Linked DNA regions of Homo sapiens: region 1 is linked to region 2. Evidence: fine-mapped expression QTL. A gene starts in region 2. The other region holds a variant in brackets. All regions are shown on one strand. Distances are between the middles of the regions.

Region 1 (10,105 bases), 21 kb before region 2:
GCAACCTCCGCCTCCCGAGTTTAAGCAATTATCCTGCCTCAGCCTCCCGAGTAGCGGGGATTACAGGCATGCACCACCACGCCCCCTTAATTTTGTAGTTTTTAGTAGAGACAGGGTTTCTCCATGTTGGTCAGGCTGATCTCGAACTCCCAACCTCAGGTGATCTGCCTGGCTCTGCCCCACAAAGTGCTGGGATTATAGGCGTTGAGCCACCGCGCCCAGCCATAAATGTTTATTTTCAAAGCAACTAGAACCAGTTTGTTTCCTTCCTGAGATAATTATCCACTTGGTAATTGTAATAAATAATAACACTATCAGACTATATTAGTCCTTAAAGATGGTGCCCAATATATTGTTGTATGTTGGAAAATATATACATGGAAAAAGAAAATTGCAAGAAAATGCAGACAGCAAAGTGATAGAAAAGTACATAAACAGCAAAAGAATAGAAAAGTATTTGGAAGGAAATATACTCAACTCTTTTTTTTTTTTTTTTTTTTTTTTTTTGAGACGGAGTCTCACTCTGTCACCAGGCTGGAGTACAGTGGCACCATCTTGGCTCACTGCAACCTTCACCTCCCGAGTTCAAGCGATTGTCTTGCCTCAGCCTCCCAAGTAGCTGGGACTACATGTGCGCACCACCATGCCTGGCTAATTTTTGTATTTTTAGTAGAGACGGGGTTTTGCCATGTTAGCCAGATTGGTCTTGAACTCCTGACCTCAGGTGATCCGCCTGCCTCAGCCTCCTAAAGTGCTGGGATTATAGGCGTGAGCCACTGCTCCCGGCCGAAATATACTCAACTCTTAACAGTAAATACCTCTGGAGAATGGAACTGGGAAAAGAACAGCATTCCATTTTTATTTTACATGCCTCTGATTTTTTTTTAAACAACTAGAATATATTATTTTTTCTCTTCTCCCCACCAAATCAAATACAGATATTAGATAGATGGCAATGATGAAGGCACAGTTGTTTAATCTCTCCAAATTCCCATATCAAAACTGGGAGAGCAACTAGATAACAAACCCAAAATCCCTGGACCACATTTTGCAAAACTAGGTGACAAGGTATCCCTAGGAATCCCATATGCAAGCAGGTGAAACTCAATACCCACAAGCTCTGGACCATTTCAGCATCTGCATGGGAAAAGCAAAGGAAGCAACAGGACAGCTGACAGACCCCCAACTGGAGAACTCCAAAAGAGCCAACGGGAAAGTGAGGTGGGTCAATCTGAAAACAAGAGGTAGAACTGGAGGAGTTTGGCCTAATCCTATTAGTGGGTGAGTGCGTGTGGGGCCCATGAGTCTGGCTAGAGCAATCCAGCCCCTAGAAACCCATGAAACTGACCAACCAGGGCCCCATTTCAGGACATGGCCACACACTGAAGAAAAACGTCCAGATGTAGAGTCAAAATTAAGCAGGACTGGGATAAAAAAAGGCCAATAAAAGAGGTGTTCAGATTAGGCGGGGGAGGAAAGCAACAATATCAGAGTCACAGAAAGCAAGCCATCATATTTTTAAACACTACACTCCTATTTCCTAAAATTTCAGGAAGCCAACCTCATAGAAATAAGCAACAGAAAAGTATCAAGATTAAATCTAATAAAAGTTATTATGAGGAAAAGGAGAATAAGAGGCAGAATAGTTTCTACAGGCAATGAAAGCATATTAGAAACAGAGTAAAACTCTACAATTTCTTGCTTTGAAACCAACTGGAAAACCCTTTTTAAATGATATAAGACATAAAAGAATAGTAAAAACCAGAAACAGACAAACGCAGAAATAAAGTGACAGAACTCAGGAAATAATTAGAAAGAAAATAATTTCAAAAATAAAGACAAACTATCAGAAACACCACAGTGAATAGGCACAACAAATAATGCCTTAAGAAAAATAGGAGGTGAAGGCCGGGCGCTGTGGCTCACACCTGTAATCCCAGCACTTTGGGAGGCCTAGGCGGGTGGATCACCTGAGGTCAAGAGTTTGAGACCAGCCTGGCCAACATGGTGAAATCCTGTCCTTACTAAAAATACAAAAATTTGCTGGGCATGGTGGCACGTGCCTGTAATCCCAGCTACTTGGGAAGCTGAAGCGGGAGAATCACTTGAACCCAGGAGGCGGAGGTTGCAGTGAGCCGAGATTGTACTCCAGCCTGGGTGACAAGAGTGAAACTCTGTCTCAAAAAAAAAAAGAGAGAAATAGAAGGCAAAAAACAGGGAACATTTAAAAAACAAAAAAGAGCTGGGTATGGTGGCTTACACCTGTAATCCCAGCATTTTGGGAGGCTGAGGCGGGAGAATCACTTGAGCACAGGAGTTCGAGACCAGCCTGGGCAACATAGGGAGACCACATCTCTCTCAAAAAAAAAAAAAAAAAAAAAAAAAAAAAATATATATATATATATATATATATATATATATATATATGTATATTAACTGAGCATGATGGCATGTGCCTGTAGTCTGAGCCACTTGGGGGGCTGGGGTGAGAGGATCACCTGAGCCCAAGGAGATCAAAGCTTCAGTGAGCTATGGTTGTGCCGCTGCACTTCAGCCTGGGAGATAGAGCAAGACCTGTCTCAAAAAAAGTAAATAAATAAATAGAAAATAACCCAAAAAGAAATAGATTAAAGGGAAAGTGGCAAATATTGAAGATAAAATAAGAACAGCCAACGTATGGACAATGAAAGATCTTTAATCTCATTGCTGGGAGAGGTCCCGACTATCTTTCATGCATAACAGTTTAAGAATTTTAACTTTTTTCTTTTTTTTCTTTTAGACAGAATCTCGCTCTGTCGCCCAGAATCAAGTGATTCTCCTGCCTCAGCCTCCCGAGTAGCTGGGACTACAGGCGCATGCTACCACACCCAGCTAATGTTTTATTTTTAGTAGAGACAGAGTTTCACCATGTTGGCCAGGCTGGTCTGGAACTCCTGACCTCAGGTGATCCGCCCACTTCGGCCTCCCAGAGTGCTGGGATTACAGGTGTGAGCCAGCGCACCCGGCCAACTTTTTATTTTTATAAGACAGTTTCACTCTGTCACCCAGGCTGGAGTGCAGTGGCTCAGCCTTGGTTCACTGCAACCTCCATCTCCTGGGTTCAAGCAATTCTCCTGCCTCAGCCTCCTGAGTAGCTGGGATTACAGGCACCCGCCACCATGCCCGGCTAATTTTTGTATTTTTAGTAAATACGGGATTTTACCATGTTGGTCAGGCTGGTCTTGAACTGCTGGCCTCAAATGATCCACCCGCCTTGGCCTCCCAAAGTGCTGGGATTATAGGTGTGAGCCACCACATCTGGCCTAATTTTAGCTTTTTATTTTCACCTACACTAAAAAAAGTTTAAAAATTTATTCAATGGTCTGAAGTTTTTTCACTGATTAAAACTCAAACCCCCATTTTCTAGAAAAGTATCCTGTAGCTAGTTGCAAAAATAAACGTGCAAGATGCAGAGAATAATATGCATCAGGATCATCCTCTATATCTTGGGGCTGATTGAGATTTTATGGGTCCTGAAGCTTATACAATTTAAGGAACACTCTTTAAGAAAAAGAATACAAAAATATCTTTAATTCCTAGCTGGGTTTTATTGGGCTCCCCTATGTCAGATACATAATCGACCATTGGAAAGTCATGATCACAGCTGTCAGAACACTCAGGGATATAATAATGTGTCAAAGTGTATGTAAAGCAGGAAGAGTCAGCAGCTATAAATACTCTCTCACAGTAGCAATCAGGAGAAACTAATAAAGAGAACGAAGAAGAAAATAGCGATTGGCACCCCACCATGCCAGTCTTCCCAGCTTCATCCCCAGATCTCTTTACCTGCCTCACCGCCGCAATCTCCATCTTCACCCCCTAACTGCACCCCTCCCTTCCTCTGTGCTCTCACTGTACAGCCAATTGCCTGTTTACTCCATGGAATCACCTTGAGGATAAGAATTGTGTACTGTTGACTGTTGTCTCTCCAGAGCCTAACAGTTCCTAAGCACGTAACAGGTGCTCAATAACTATTCATAGAATGTAATGAGATCTTCTGGTACCTCAGCTCCTTACTTTTACATTTGCTGTGCTTTCAGCATAGCTTTTCTGGAGTGTGCTATAATTCAGGAAAAGAAAATATCCTTCCTTTCTGAAATTTTTTTTTTTTAATTTTTTTGTAGAGATGAGGTCTTACTATGTTTCCCAGGCTGGTCTGAAACTCCTGGGCTCAAGCGATCAAGTGATCCTCCCACCTCAGGAGTGCTGGGATTCCAGGCCTAAGCCACCATGCCCAGCCAAAAACATCCTTTCTCATCTCTTGCTTTGTCGCCCAGGCTGGAGTACAGTGTTGCGATCTCGGCTCACTGCAACCTCTGCCTCCCAGGTTCAAGCAATTCTCCTGTCTCAGCCTCCTGAGAAGCTGAGATTACAGGCACACACCACCATGCCCAGCTAATTTTTGTATTTTTAGTAGAGATGGGGTTTCACCATATTGGTCAGACTGGTCTCGAACTCCTGACCTCAAGTGATCCACCCACCTCAGCCTCCCAAAGTGCTGGGATTACAGGCATAAGTCACTGTACCCAGCCAGGAGAATACTTTTGTAACCTGCATAATAGTATCTAATAAGTTTTTGCTCAACCCAAGATTTCATATAAGAAAAAAAACCCAATAACTTAAAATTCCTCAAAATTATGAGCTTTTGCTCTTTGAAGTTTGTTAAGAAAAGAAAAAAGACAAGCAACAGACTGGGAGAATACAGAAATAACTCAATATCCACAAGTAGTGTACCATTTCAGCATCTGCATGGGAAAAATCAAAGGAAGCAACAGGACAGCTGACAGACCCCTAAAGGGGTCTTGTATCTGATAAAGGACTTGTATCCAGAATATAGAGAGAGCTCTCAAAATTCAGTAATAATAAAACAAACAACCCAATTTTTAAAATGGGGAAACTATTTGAATAGAAAACTCACCCAAGAAGATATATGGATAGCAGCCAGGCACGGTGGCTCAAGCCTGTAATCCCAGCACTTTGGGAGGCTGAGGCGGGAGGATCTCGAGGTCAGGAGACGAAGACCATTCTGGCTAACACGGTGAAACCCCATCTCTACTGGAAAAAAAAAAAAAAAATTAGCTGGGCATGGTGGCAGGTGCCTGTAGTCTCAGCTACTCAGGAGGCTGAGGCAGGAGAATGGCGTGAACCCGGGAGGCGGAGCTTGCAGTGAGCCGAGATCACGCCACTGCACTCCAGCCTGGGCGACAGAGCAACACTCCGTCTCAAAAAAAAAAAAAAAGAAAGATATATGGATAGCAAATAAGCACAGAAAAAGATGTTCAACCTCATTAGCCAGTAGAGAAATGCAAATTAAAACCTCAGTGATACTACTACACACTTACAAGAGCCATAATCCAGATGAGT[G/A]TTTTGGCAAGAATGGGAAGCAACCAGAACTTTCTTCCTTTCTTTTTTTTACAGAAAGCGTCTTACTATGTTGCCCAGGCTGTTTCAAACTCCTGGGCTTGCGTGGACACGGTGGCTCACGCCTGTAACTCCAACACTTCGGGAGATTGAGGCAGGTGAATCTGAGATCAGGAGTTCGAGACCAACCTGGCCAACAAGGTGAAAGCCCGTCTCTATTAAAAATACAAAAAATTACTTGGGTGTGGTGGTACACGCCTGTAGTCCCAGCTACTCAGGAGGCTGAGGCAAGAGCATCACTTGAGCCAGGAGGTGGAGGTTGCAGTAAGCTGAGATCACACCACTGCACTCCAGCCTAGGCGACAGAGCGAGACTCCATCTAAAAGAAAAACCAAACAAACAACAACAACAAAAAAACCCATTTTGGAAAAGTTTGGCAGCTTCTTAAAATGTTAAGCATACACCTACTATAAACCCAGCCATTCCATTTCTAAGTATTTATCCCAAATAAATGAAGACATAGATCCATTAAACACTTGTACTAAATGTTCACAGCAGTTTTATTTATTTTCATTATTTTTAAATTTTTAAAATAGAGATGGGGGGTCTCACTATAATCCCTGCTCTTTGGGAGGCCAAGGTGGGGAGATAAGCTGATGTCAGGAGTTCGAGACCAGCCTGGCCAATATAGTGAAACCCTGTCTCTACTAAAAATACAAAAATTAGCTGGGCATGGTGGCGCATGCCTGTAATCCCAGCTGTTCTGGAGGCTGGTGTAGGAGAATCACTTGAACCCAGGAGGAGGAGGTTACAGTGAGCCGAGATTGTGCCATTGCACTCCAGCCTGGATGAGAGTGAGACTCCATCTCAAAAAATAAAATAAAATGAAATAAAATTTTAGAAAACGCAATGAAATCTTTCCCCTGGACTACCACACTAGCTTCCTAAATGGTTCTCTCTGCTTTTCTTTTTTTTTGAAATGGAGTCTCACTCTGTCACCGCGGCTGGAGTGCAGTAGTGAGGCCTTGGCTCACTGCAACCTCTGCCTGCTGGGTTCAGGTGATTCTCCTGCCTCAGCCTCCCGAGCAGCTGGGATTACAGGCACGCACCACCACACCTGGCTAATTTTTGTATTTATATTACAGACAGGGTTTCACCATGTCGGCCAGGCTGGTCTTGAACTCCTGACCTCAAGTGATCCACCGGCCTTGGCCTCCCAAAGTGCTGGGATTACAGGTGTGAGACACCGTGCCCAGCCTCTCTGTTTCTTTTCTATCACTCCTCTAATCCACTCTTCACGCAGCATCCAGGATATTTTTTTCTAAAATATAAAGCATATCATGATGTGATGCTCTTCTGCTTAAAACCCTCCTATGGCTTCCAATTGCTCTTAGAATACAATCCAAATATATGGTAGAGGCCAGGAGCGGTGGCTCATGTCTGTAATCCCAGCACTTTGGGAGGCCGAGGCAGGCAGATCATCTGAGGTCAGGAGTTCGAGACCAGCCTGGCCAACATGGCGAAACCCCGTCTCTACTAAAAAAAAATACAGGCCAGGTATAGCGGGTCATGCCTGTAATCCCAGCACTTTGGGAGGCTGAGGTGGGCAGATCATGAGGTCAGGAGATCGAGACCATCCTGGCCAACATGGTGAAACCCCATCTCTACTAAAATACAAAAAAAAATTAGCCGGTGTAGTGGTGCATGCCTGTAATCCCAGCTACTCAGGAGGCTGAGGCAGGAGAATCGCTTGAACCTGGGAGGCGGAAGTTGCAGTGAGCCGAGATCACGCCGCTGCACTCCAGCCTGGGCTACACAGCGAGACTCTGTCTCAAAAAAAAAAAAAAAAAAAAATTCGCTGAGCGTGGTGGCGGGCACCTGTAATTCCAGCTACTTGGGAGGCCAAGGCAGGAGCATCACTTGAACCCAGGAGGCAGAGGTTGCAGTAAGCCGAGATCATGCCACTGCACTCCAGCCTCGGTGTCAGAGCAAGACTCTATCTCAATAAACAAACAAACAAACAAACAAACATCTAGTAGACACTTCCTGATCTAGCTTATTCTACCTCTCTGACCTTATCTCCAGCTACCCTCCCCTCTTTGCTTACCATATTCAGCCATACAGATCTTTTGGCTCCAAAAACCTGCCTAACTTGCTCCTGCCTCTAGACCTTTGTGTTTACTGTTCTTTCACTTGGAATGTTCTTCCTCGGAACTATGCCTAATGCGCCTTCCTATCTTTCAGGCCTCCCCTCATGTATCACTTCTTCAGAAATGACTTCTGTGACCACATCTGAGGTAGGCCTGTAGTCAGTCCCTATTCATTATAATTTCATAGCATATATTATCTGAAGTTATTTTGCCATTTGTTCATTATTTCCCTCTCCCAACCACCACCTTCAAGACAACAATAATTAGTTTCTTTCTTCTTCACAGCTGTATCCTCAGTGCATACAGCAGTGTCTAGCACACCACAGACACTCACATGTTTGTTGAATGAATGAATGGGTGACCTTCAAGCAGTCTGGAAAGAGAGCAGCCAGTTCTCTACTTAAATGTTTTCAGAAAAGATTCCACCATTTTTCTGACAATAAAAATGAAGTCCAGTGTCCAATAATATTTAGTTGTCAGAATGGTTCTCCTAATATCCAACCTAATCCTTCCCAAAGCAATTTCTGTCCTGTCTCTTCTCATTTGTCTGGTGCTCAATGGAATAATTAAATTAGCTTACCATGGTCAATAATAAATGTACCAGGCCTTCTCAACAATAATTCTACTTCTCATCATATCTCACATTGCTGTTCTCTCTGGTCCTTGTCAAAAGTTCTCGGTCTCAAGTTTCATCTGTGAAGCCCAGTATTCAACCCAAATATTACTGCTTGAAATAGCCTACATAAGAAAAACTCAACGTATAAGTACCTACTTAAAAAGAGCAGTCCTACATCACCTACCTCTTATTAAATTTCTTTATCTGGCCAGGCACAGTGGCTCACACCTGTAATCCCAGCACTTTGGGAGGCTGAGGCAGGAGAATCGCTTGAACCCAGGAGGCACAGGTTGCAGTGAGCTGAGATCGCACCACTGCACTCCAGCCTGGGCGGCAGAGTGAGACTCCATTTCAAAAATAAAAAACAAAAAAAACTATTTATCTGTAGATTCTACATGTGTTTTCATAATGGCCTTTTGTGAAAATGCTTGGACCTTCTCAAGAACCTGCAGGTTCAAATGAGAAGAAGTTTTGAAACATCTTAAAGGTTGTAGCTCCTAGAAAAGCTACCCAACATTGCTGGCCCACCTGTGGTTTCACCACTCCACGCAAAGCGGGGTATAGGTACAGGGTCTGAAATTCCAGTGAATTTCAACCTTCCAGAAGAAGGTTGAATGAATAACCATTAAAAGCACTCTTCTTTTTTCTTGAGACGGAGTCTCACTCTTCACCCAGGCTGGAGTGCAGTGGCACGATCTCGGCTTACTGCAACCTCCACCTCCCAGGTTCAAGTGATTCTCGTGTCTCAGCCTCCCAAATAGCTGGGATTACAGGTGCATGCCACCACACCGGGCTAATTTTTGTATTTTTAGTAGAGATGGGGTTTTACCAGGTTGGTCAGGTTGGTCTCGAACTCCTGGCTTCAATCGATCCACCCACCTCAGCCTCTCAAACTGCTGGGATTATAGGCGTGAGCCACCGCACCTGGCCAAAAGCGTACTTTAGTGAGAAGTTATTAAGACTAAAAAAGTGGGCTTTGGGCTGGCTGCAGTGGCTCATGCCTGTAATCCAACCACTTTAGGAGGCCAGGAGGGAGATCACTAGAGCCCAGGAGTTTGAGACCAGCCTGGGCAACACAGGGAGATCCCCCTGCCATGGTCTCTACCTAAAAACTACAAAAATTAGTGGGGTGTGGTGGTGCATGCCTGTAATCCCAGCTACTTGGGAGGCTGAGGTGGGAGGGTTGCTTGCACCCTGGAGGTCAAGGCTGCAGTGAGCCAAGGTCGCACCACTGCACCCCAGCCTGGGCAACAGAGTGAAACTCTGTCTCAAAAAAAAAAAAAGTGGGCTTTAGGGGTAAATCTTAAAGTTGAGATGGGGAAAAAGTAAACAGAACTGAGGATCCTATAGACTGCACTAGCCAAAGTTATGATGATACCTCAGTTTTGTTAAACAGTATAGCACTATTGTTAGAATAAGCACTGGAGTCAGGCACACCTAGGTTCAAATCCTACTTCTGCCACTTACCTACTGTGTAAATCTGGGCACCTTACCTTGCTTCTCTAAACCTTGGTTGCTTCACTCATAAATGAGGGCAATGATATTGCATCCCTCATAGAGTCGTGAGATTAAATGACTTCATTCATGTAAACCCCTTTTTAGGGTTGTAGGAATTGCTCAATACATTTATTTGAGTTACTACTATGAATTCCTTTTTTTTTTTTTTTTTTTTTTTGAGATGGAGTTTCACTCTTGTTGCCCAGGCTGGAGTGCAATGGCGCGATCTCGGCTCACTGCAACCTCCACCTCCCGGGTTCAAGCAATTCTCCTGCCTCAGCCTCCCAAGTATCTGGGATTACAGGCATGCACCACCACACCCACCTAATTTTGCATTTTTTTAGCAGAGATGGGGTATATTATAAACAACTATAAGCCAATGTATATGAAAACTTTCATCAAATGAACCATCTTCCAGGAAAAAATACAATTTACCAAGACT
Region 2 (9,904 bases):
GTTACCCACAAAGGGAAGCCCATCAGTCTAACAGCGGATCTCTCGGCAGAAACTCTACAAGCCAGAAGAGAGTGGGGGCCAATATTCAACATTCTTAAAGAAAAGAATTTTCAACCCAGAAATTTCATATCCAGCCAAACTAAGCTTCATAAGTGAAGGAGAAATAAAATCCTTTACAGACAAGCAAATGCTGAGAGATTTTGTCCCCACCAGGCCTGCCTTACAAAAGCTCCTGAAGGAAGCACTAAACATGGAAAGGAACAACCAGTACCAGCCACTACAAAAACATGCCAAATTGTAAAGACCATCAGTGCTAGGAAGAAACTGCATCAACTAACGAGCAAAATAGCCAGCTAACTTCATAATGACAGGATCAAATTCACACATAACAATATTAACCTTAAACATAAATGGGCTAAATGCTCCAATTAAAAGACACAGACTGGCAAATTGAATAAAGAGTCAAGACCCATCAGTGTGCTATATTCAGGAGACCCATCTCACGTGTAGAGACACACATAGGCTCAAAATGAAGGGATGGAGGAAGATCTACCAAGCAAATGGAAAACAAAAAAAAAGCAGGGGTTGCAATCCTAGTCTCTGATAAAACAGACTTTAAACCAACAAAGATCAAAAGAGACAAAGAAGGCCATTACATAATGGTAAAGGGATCAATTCAACAAGAAGAGCTAACTATCCTAAATATATTTATATATATTGCACCCAATACAGAGCACCCAGATTCATAAAGCAAGTCCTTAGAGACCTACAAAGAGACTTAGACTCCCACACAATAATAATGGGAGATTTTAACACCCCACTGTCAACATTAGACAGATCAACGAGACAGAAAGTTAACAAGGATATCAAGGAATTGAACTCAGCTCCGCACCGAGCAGACCTCTCCACCCCAAATCAACAGAATAGACATTATACATTCTTCTCAGCACCACATCACACTTATTCCAAAATTGACCACATAGTTGGAAGTAAAGCACTCCTCAGCAAATGTAAAAGAACAGAAATTATAACAAACTGTCTCTCAGACCACAGTGCAATCAAACTAGAACTCAGGATTAAGAAACTCACTCAAAACCGCTCAACTACATGGAAACTGAACAACCTGCTTCTGAATGACTACTGGGTACATAACAAAATGAAGGCAGAAATAAAGGTGTTCTTTGAAACCAACGAGAACAAAGACACAACATACCAGAATCTCTGGGACACATTCAAAGCAGTGTGCAGAGGGAAATTTGTAGCACTAAATGCCCACAAGAGAAAGCAGGAAAGATCTAAAATTGACACCCTAACATCACAATTAAAAGAACTAGAGAAGCAAGAGCAAACACATTCAAAAGCTGGCAGAAGGCAAGAAATAACTAAGATCAGAGCAGAACTGAAGGAAATAGAGACACAAAAAACCCTTCAAAAAAATCAATGAATCCAGGAGCTGGTTTTTTGAAAAGATCAACAAAATTGATAGACCGCTAGCAAGACTAATAAAGAAGAAAAGAGAGAAGAATCAAATAGACGCAATAAAAAATGATAAACGGGATATCACTACCGATCCCACAGAAATACAAACTACCATCAGAGAATATTATAAATATCTCTACACAAATAAACTAGAAAATCTAGAAGAAATGGATAAATTCCTGGACACATACACCCTCCCAAGACTAAACCAGGAAGAAATTGAATCCCTGAATAGACCAATAACAGGTTCTGAAATTGAGACAATTAATAGCCTACCAACCAAAAAACAGTCCAGGACCAGACGGATTCACAGCCAAATTCTACCAGAGGTACAAAGAAGAGTTGGTACCATTCCTTCTGAAACTATTCCAATCAATAGAAAAAGAGGGAATCCTCCCTAATTCATTTTATGAGGCCAACATCATCCTGATACCAAAGCCTGGCAGAGACACAACAAAAAAAGAGAATTTTAGACCAATATCCCTGGTGAACACCGACGCAAAAATCCTCAATAAAATACTGGCAAACCGAATCCAGCACCACATCAAAAAGCTTATCCACCACGATCAAGTTGGCTTCATCCCTGGGATGCAAGGCTGGTTCAACATATGCAAATCAATAAATGTAATCCATCATATAAACAGAACCAAATACAAAAATCACATGATTATCTCAATAGATGCAGAAAAGGCCTTCAACAAAATTCAACAGCCCTTCATGCTAAAAACTCTCAATAAACTAGGTATTGATGGGACGTATCTCAAAATAATAAGAGCTATTTATGACACATCCACAGCCAATATCATACCGAATGGGCAAAAACTGGAAGCATTCCCTTTGAAAACTGGCATAAGACAGGGATGCCCTCTCTCACCACTCCTAGTCAACATAGTGTTGGAAGTTCTGGCCAGGGCAATCAGGCAAGAGAAAGAAATAAAGGGTATTCAATTAGGAAAAGAGGAAGTCAAATTGTCCCTGTTTGCAGATGACATGATTGTATATTTAGAAAACCCCATCGTCTCAGCCCAAAATCTCCTTAAGCTGGTAAGCAACTTCAGCAAAGTCTCAGGATACAAAATCAATGTGCGAAAATCACAAGCATTCCTATACGCCAATAACAGACAAACAGAGAGCCAAATCATGAGTGAACTCCCACTCACAATTGCTTCAAAGAGAATAAAATACCTAGGAACCCAACTTACAAGGGAAGTGAAGGACCTCTTCAAGGAGAACTACAAACCACTGCTCAACAAAACAAAAGAGGACACAAACAAATGGAAGAACATTCCATGCTCTTGGATAGGAAAAATCAATATCGTGAAAATGGCCATACTGCCCAAGGTAATTTATAGATTCAATGCCATCCCCATCAAACTACCAATGACTTTCTTCACAGAATTGGAAAAAACTACTTTAAAGTTCATATGGAACCAAAAAAGAGCCCGCATTGCCAAGACAATCCTAAGCCAAAAGAACAAAGCTGGAGCATCACGCTACCTGACTTCAAACTATACTACAAGGCTACAGTAACCAAAACAGCATGGTACTGGTACCAAAACAGAGATATAGACCAATGGAACAGAACAGAGGCCTCAGAAATAATGCCACATATCTACAACCATCTGATCTTTGACAAACCTGACAAAAACAAGAAATGGGGAAAGGATTCCCTATTTAAAAATGGTGCTAGGAAAACTGGCTAGCCATATGTAGAAAGCTGAAACTGGATCCCTTCCTTACACCTTATAAAAAAAGTTAATTCAAGATGGGTTAAAGACTTAAATGTTAGACCTAAAACCATAAAAACCCTAGAAGAAAACCTAGGCAATACCATTCAGGCCATAGGCATGGGCAAGGACTTCATGACTAAAACACCAAAAGCAATGGCAACAAAAGCCAAAATTGACAAATGGGATCTAATTAAACTAAAGAGCTTCTGCACAGCAAAAGAAACTACCATCAGAGTGAACAGGCAACCTACAGAATGAGAGAAAGATTTTACAGTCTACCCATCTGACAAAGGGCTAATATCCAGAATCTACAAAGAACTTAAACAAATTTACAAGAAAAAATCAAACAACCCCATCAAAAAGTGGGTAAAGGATATGAACAGGCACTTCTCTAAAGAAGACATTTATGCAGCCAACAGACACATGAAAAAACGCTCATCATCACTGGCCATCAGAGAAATGCAAATCAAAACCACAATGAGGTACCATCTCACACCAGTTAGAATGGCGATCATTAAAAAGTCAGGAAACAACAGGCATTGGAGAGGGTGTGGAGAAATAGGAACGCTTTTACACTGTTGGTGGGACTGTAAACTAGTTCGACCATTGTGGAAGACAGTGTGGTGATTCCTCAAGGATCTAGAACTAGAAATACCATTTGACCCAGCCATCCCATTACTGGGCATATACTCAAAAGATTATTCTGCTATAAAGACTATTCACAACAGCAAAGACTTGGAACCAACCCAAATGTCCATCAATGATAGACTGGATTAAGAAAATGTGGCACATATACACCATGGAATACTATGCAGTCATAAAAAAGGATTAGTTCATGTCCTCTATAGGGACATGGATAAAGCTAGAAACCATCATTCTGAGCAAACTATCGCAAGGACAGAAAACCAAACACCATGTGTTCTCACACATAGGTGGGAATTGAACAATGAGAACACTTGGACACAGCGTGGGGAACATCACACACCAGGGCCTGTTGTGGGGTTGGGGGAGGGGGGAGGGATAGCATTGGGAGATATACTTAATGTAAATGACGAGTTAACGGGTACAGCACACCAACATGGCACATGTATACATATGTAACAAACCTGCATGTTGTGCACATGTACCCTAGAACTTAAAGTATAATAAAAAAAATTTAAAATTAAAAAAATTTAAAAAAGAAAGTTGCATATTACTAAATGAGAAAAGCAATTTGCAAAATATAATTTATATAATCTCATTTTTGTGGAAAATGTTTATATACATATTTACATATGCATATAAAACCTCTTGAAAGACCATCTAAAACTTAACTGCTGTTATCCTAGAGGGGAGAAGGCAGGTCATCAAAGGGGATTTGCACTATTTATCTCTGTCATGTTTAAGTTTTTATTATAAGAATGTATTAATTTTGTGCAAAACAATAAAAGTAGGCCAGGCGTGGTGGCTCACGCCTGTAATCCCAGCACATTGGGAGACCAAGGCTGGATGATCTCGCCAAGCCAGGAGTATGAGACCAGCCTGGACAGAATAGCGAGACCCTGTCTCTAAAAATAAATAGATAGATAGATAGATAGATAGATAGATAGATAGATAGATAGATAGATAGACAGACAGACAGACAGACAGACAGACAGACAGACAGATAGATAAACAAACAATAAAAGTCTTAACTTTCTCCTTTGTGGAAGAAATTCTAAGGGGATAGGACAGTGCCTCAATGAACTCATTTTAAATTAGCTCTCCCTTTTTACACAAAAACTGCCCAAATCTGCTCTACCTCCCAATGAATTTTTGCATCCCTTAGGAGTTCTCTAGTCAAGTAAATGGCAAAAACTGTGGTCAGGGAAGAAGTCAAGGCTGAAATCCAGGAGTCATTGCTCCTTATCTTCCTAGAACCTGACTCTTGGCCTGAAATAGACTCTACTGCTCCCTTTCTGAATGAAGAGAGAGGAGGACCTAAAGTTGTTTGTGTAGGAGCCACAACTGACCAAGCTCATCTCACAATAAGGTTTGGAGCCCCAAATAAAGACTTGGTCTAGAAGATTCCATGTGGACAACAAAATTACACAGTTAAGATACTGAGGTGAAGACCCCCTAAATCGTCTGGCCTAGGTAATGGAGAAAGTGAATTTGTGTATTAATTCTTTATTTTCTGGTTCAGTCTAGCCAGAGAGGGTTTTGGAGCAAGAGGAACAAGGTTAAAAGAAAAGAACAAAGACCATTGTCTCAGGGAGACCTTAAGAAAGGTGATGCGGATGCTAAAGTAGAAGGTGTGAAAATAGTTAGAAAGAATGAAGAAGACCTAGTATTCAACAGCACAACAGGGTGACTATCGTCAATAATAATTTCATTGTACATGGTAACTAAGAGTATAATTAGACTGTTTGTAACACAAAGGATTAATGCTTGAGGTGATGGATACTCATTTACCCTGATGTGATTATCATGCATTCATTGTATGCCTGTATCAAAATATCTCATGTACATGTACTCCATAAATATATATACCTACTATGTATCCACAAAAGTTAACTGAAATTTTTTTTAAAAGATGGGGCTATATGGCTACATAGACATCAGTCTGGAGCCCTTTGAGGATCCCCAGTGCTGTGGCTGAGGCCACCCTCCTCCCTAGGGAACAGAAGGAGCAGAGTCCCAGAGAAGTGTGAGCGAGGGCCTGGGTGCCCTCCTGGCTCCGCCACCTGAGTTTAAGAAAGTAGGGATTTTGAGATCACCTTTGTGTGCCTATTGAAATCTCTTTCCTTCTTCGAAACTCAAATTCTACCTTCTTCAGAAAACCTCCCCTAAATAAGCCTACACTATTATAGGCAGTTTGTAGCTTTCTAATACTTTATTAAACTGCGTTATTTTATTGTCACCTTACTAGGCTGTAAATGTTGTTAGGGCAGAAATCATGTTTTGGTTTTTAAAAATTTCCACAATGCCTAGGGTGGTGTTGAGAATAAAATAGGCATTTGGTAAGTAATTGTGTGATGAAAAAGTTGAAAGGAAGAAAAAACCATCGGGCTTCCTGAAGTTTCTAGCCTTTCTAACTTAGACAGAGAATACACTAGATGGTAGGACTGCATCCCCACATTCTCAAATCAGAGGGTGGAGGTTCACCTGCACCTGGTGTATTTTTTTCTGAAAAAACAAAACAAACAAAAAAATGCTATCCTGAATGCAAATTCAGTCTCAAAGTGCTACAGAGGACAACCAGGAAAGCACAGTCCTTTCTGGATCCCTTTTGGGGACCAGGCTGTGTGTGTGTGTGTGTTGTGTGTGTGTGTGTGTGTGTAAGTGTGCATAGGTGGGAAAAGGTTGTGGTGTGATGGGAGGGGATAGGCAAGAGGGAGGAAAGAGACTCCATGCAGTGATTATGTGGAGGGGATTTGCTATGTCTCTTCCCCCCGCTTCTTTCTTTGTCCTCTTTCTCCTGGTCCCCTTCTTCTGCATTTGTCTGGGAGGATCCTGGAGTGTTCTTTTGATCGACTCAATCTTTCTCTGGCACTTGAGTTCTGATTGGCTGAAGGACTTAGAGGGGAAAAAAAACTTTAATTAAGTAGATAATCTCTTCTTTGGACGTTTGGCAGCTCCATTTCACCTCCCCTTAACTCTGTTTGGGATCGCTTACACACCAAGGAAGTTGGGCTTTGAGAATTCCATCCCACTGGCACTGAGGAGAATATTTCTCCGTCTTGCTTACCCATCTCCCAGTTTTTTGGAATTTTCTCTAGCTGTTACTCCAGAGGATTATGTTTCTTTCAAAGCCTTCTGTGTACATCTGTCTTTTCACCTGTGTCCTCCAACTCAGCCACAGCTGGTAAGTAACCTGGACTCTTACCTGGAGCTGGGAATAGGTAAGTGTATGTAATGTGTTGGGTAAAGCTCATTTCATTTCCAGAAATGTAGGAAGCCTTGATAGCTCTCCTAGGAAAAACTGTTCTATGGGGTAGGGCTCTTCCTAAATTTATGGCTGATTTTAGTGAATCTTTAGGACCCCTACCAATAAAGGACTAAATGATGGGAGCGGGGGTTCCTATTTTTATAAATTGCTATTCCACAAATATTCCCCCAAAGTGATTTGGGGGTAAATGGACAGCAGCCCTTTTCACGAAATCCTGATGTCAGCATTGTAGAGAGGAGGAAGGTAGTTCAAAGCAAGTTCTACCGTGTGTTGAATCTGATCTTGAGGTAAAGTCTGGAGACAAAATTCAATGGGATCTTACTTTGTACTTTCTGACTTTATTTTTTTTTTCAGGATATTCTAAGTAATTGCTCAAATTATCATTTCCTAGACATAAAAAATTTTATTTGAACCACTAAGCAGGCATTGGGTTAACAAACATGTTTGAAACCAGATATTTTAGAAATCTAAACGTCTCGAGAAATTTATTTAATTTGTTCAATTTACAAATATTTCTAAATTGTTCAGAAAATCAGATAACGTATATGAAAGTGCTTTGTAAATTATAAACACAAATGCTAAAGAATATCATCACCATTCTCATTTAGCTCTTGGAAACCACATAAACTATCTATACATGCAACTGTTCATTAGCAAATACACCAGTACACAATAACATACAGAATGCAGGTTGCTAGGGTGTTCGGAGTTTCTCTCCAGTTCAGATATGAGCTCAGTCTCTCTCTTCATCAGCTCTCATTTTGACCATCTATTTAACAAAGATATAAATCCAATTGCTACATAAACTGTTGAGGAAGCAGGAAAAGAAATTTCTTTGCTGAGATAAGCTTCCTTTGAGAATTGAAAATACATTTTTATCATAAATGAGTGTAGCCGTCTTTATAGGAGTGTTGATAGGAAGTATGCCAACTTCATAAAACTATTTGCAAGTTAATACAATAATTTGCAACATTTCTGATTATAAGCAGAACCACCAATTAGTCCATTTTTAATTGGCATTTTAATTAAATATTTCAATGTTAAAAAAAAGGTCTCTCTTCTCTCCCCCTCATGAGAACAAAAAGACAAAAGGGAGAGGAGACTATTTCAGAGCATTTCTACTGATGTTCATGGTATTCTTCAGCTGATTCAGTATCAGCAAAAGAGAAACACGAGATTCCCTTCCCTAGTCACCAGGGCGGTGTGAAGAATTGTTCTATAAAAAATACCTTTACTGTGTGTTCCCTTCCCTGCTGGAGGGGGTCATGTTCATTTCATTCCGATACTGACACAGCCACACTGAAAGGTGGCTGGGTTGCTTGTCTGTCCAAATTCAAGTGTCTGGATTCAAAAAGAAAAAAGGAAAAAGAGATGTGAAAGAAAGTTCTAATTTAAGAAAACAGGGTTTAAGAGCCCTTCTCGCCTTGCCTGACTTTGAGGAGAAAATGTACAAATCTCCTTTATAATACAATTAGATTTTAATTGCTTTTTCCTATAAGCCCCAATTTAAATTAAACATTTGTACTTCACCAAGAATCTGTTTGTGGTGGCATTTGAAAAGTGATTTTTAAATTTAACATTAAACGTTGATTATGCTTCTAATGAAACTATCACGGTTTTGCATAAGGTCATCTTCCCCTTTATGCCATGCAGAGAAATTTGACCAACCACAGCCTTTGAAATGTTTCTCTTAATACTTCATTATCAACCTTTTATGTAAGGACCTCAAAAGCATTTAACAAATAGAGAACCACAATTTCTGCTTGGCTGTTCAATTGTAGGCCTGCCTGAAATTACTATCTAAAAGAGTCCATCAGCAGAAATTCCTGGGCTTGAAAAGGAGAGAATAATGATGACATTCACCTATAATATGCAGTTTTACTAGGTAAATCAGTACAAGATGATTTCTTTGAAAAGTATTTGCCACAGTTTTTTATAGTTGGGACACTTCCAAGGAGAACTGTCTTTTAGTAACTTGAGAAAATTATTTTCTTTGAATTTGTTTGTCTTAATCCTTATGGCTCCAAAGATAGAGAATGAGAATGCATGATAAGCCAAGCAGATGATGATGATTATAATGGTGGCCAGAGATGAACCAATTTGATTTTCCTTCCAATGCACTTACTCATCTGGAATGAGCAGGCCTAGAAAGTGTTTTACCTTAACTGGTTGGCCCCATTTTACTCCAAATGATATGTCATAATGACAGTGGGTCTTACCCAGTTCTGTTCATTTCTCACTCTCTCCCCACCTAACTCAGTCACCAAATCAGAAGGATGCCCTGGGATACAGAAGTAAACTATAGCTCTGCTCTCATTCTTCAACAGAAGTCACCGCCTCTACTTCTTTCCAAAGGTCTGCAGCAGGAATTTAAACAGGGTCCATTTCTCTTCTGCAGTAGGGCAAGAATTTACCTAAAATCATTGGATTTTATGGCAGCTTTTGAAAAACATCATCTTTTGGTCCTCTACATGCATCTCATAGAGTAACCTTTCTATGGCTCTTGAAATCTCATCTGATGATGACATGTGGGACTCCTGATTGGCAAAGGAATCAGTTATTGGAGGAAGGTCTTTGAATCCATATTCTCACCAAGCATTGCATAAAGCTGAAATTATTGATCTCCACACTATGTTCTACTACTTTTAGGTGTATTTTATGAACAATAAAATACAAACTCACTTAAAAATTACTGAATTCATACTGGGGTTCTGTCATAAGTTTTTGCCATGTTGAATTTTTCCCACTAACAGATTAAAAAAAACCATATATGATCAAGTGAAGA

The links.
Region 1: its variant is fine-mapped to the expression of WNT8B in whole blood (TOPMed, PIP 0.97).

Annotation. Positions count from the first base shown.
Region 1 is chr10:100,435,191-100,445,295 of GRCh38, forward strand. No RefSeq gene overlaps it. Among named protein-coding and RNA genes, the nearest start is that of WNT8B, 23 kb to the right of the region's middle. The variant G/A (reference allele first, on the strand shown) is at 5,404.
Region 2 is chr10:100,456,202-100,466,105 of GRCh38, forward strand. It overlaps WNT8B (Wnt family member 8B), which reads left to right and starts at 6,808. Exons shown (of 6, transcript NM_003393.4): 1 at 6,808-7,035. The coding sequence starts at 6,968.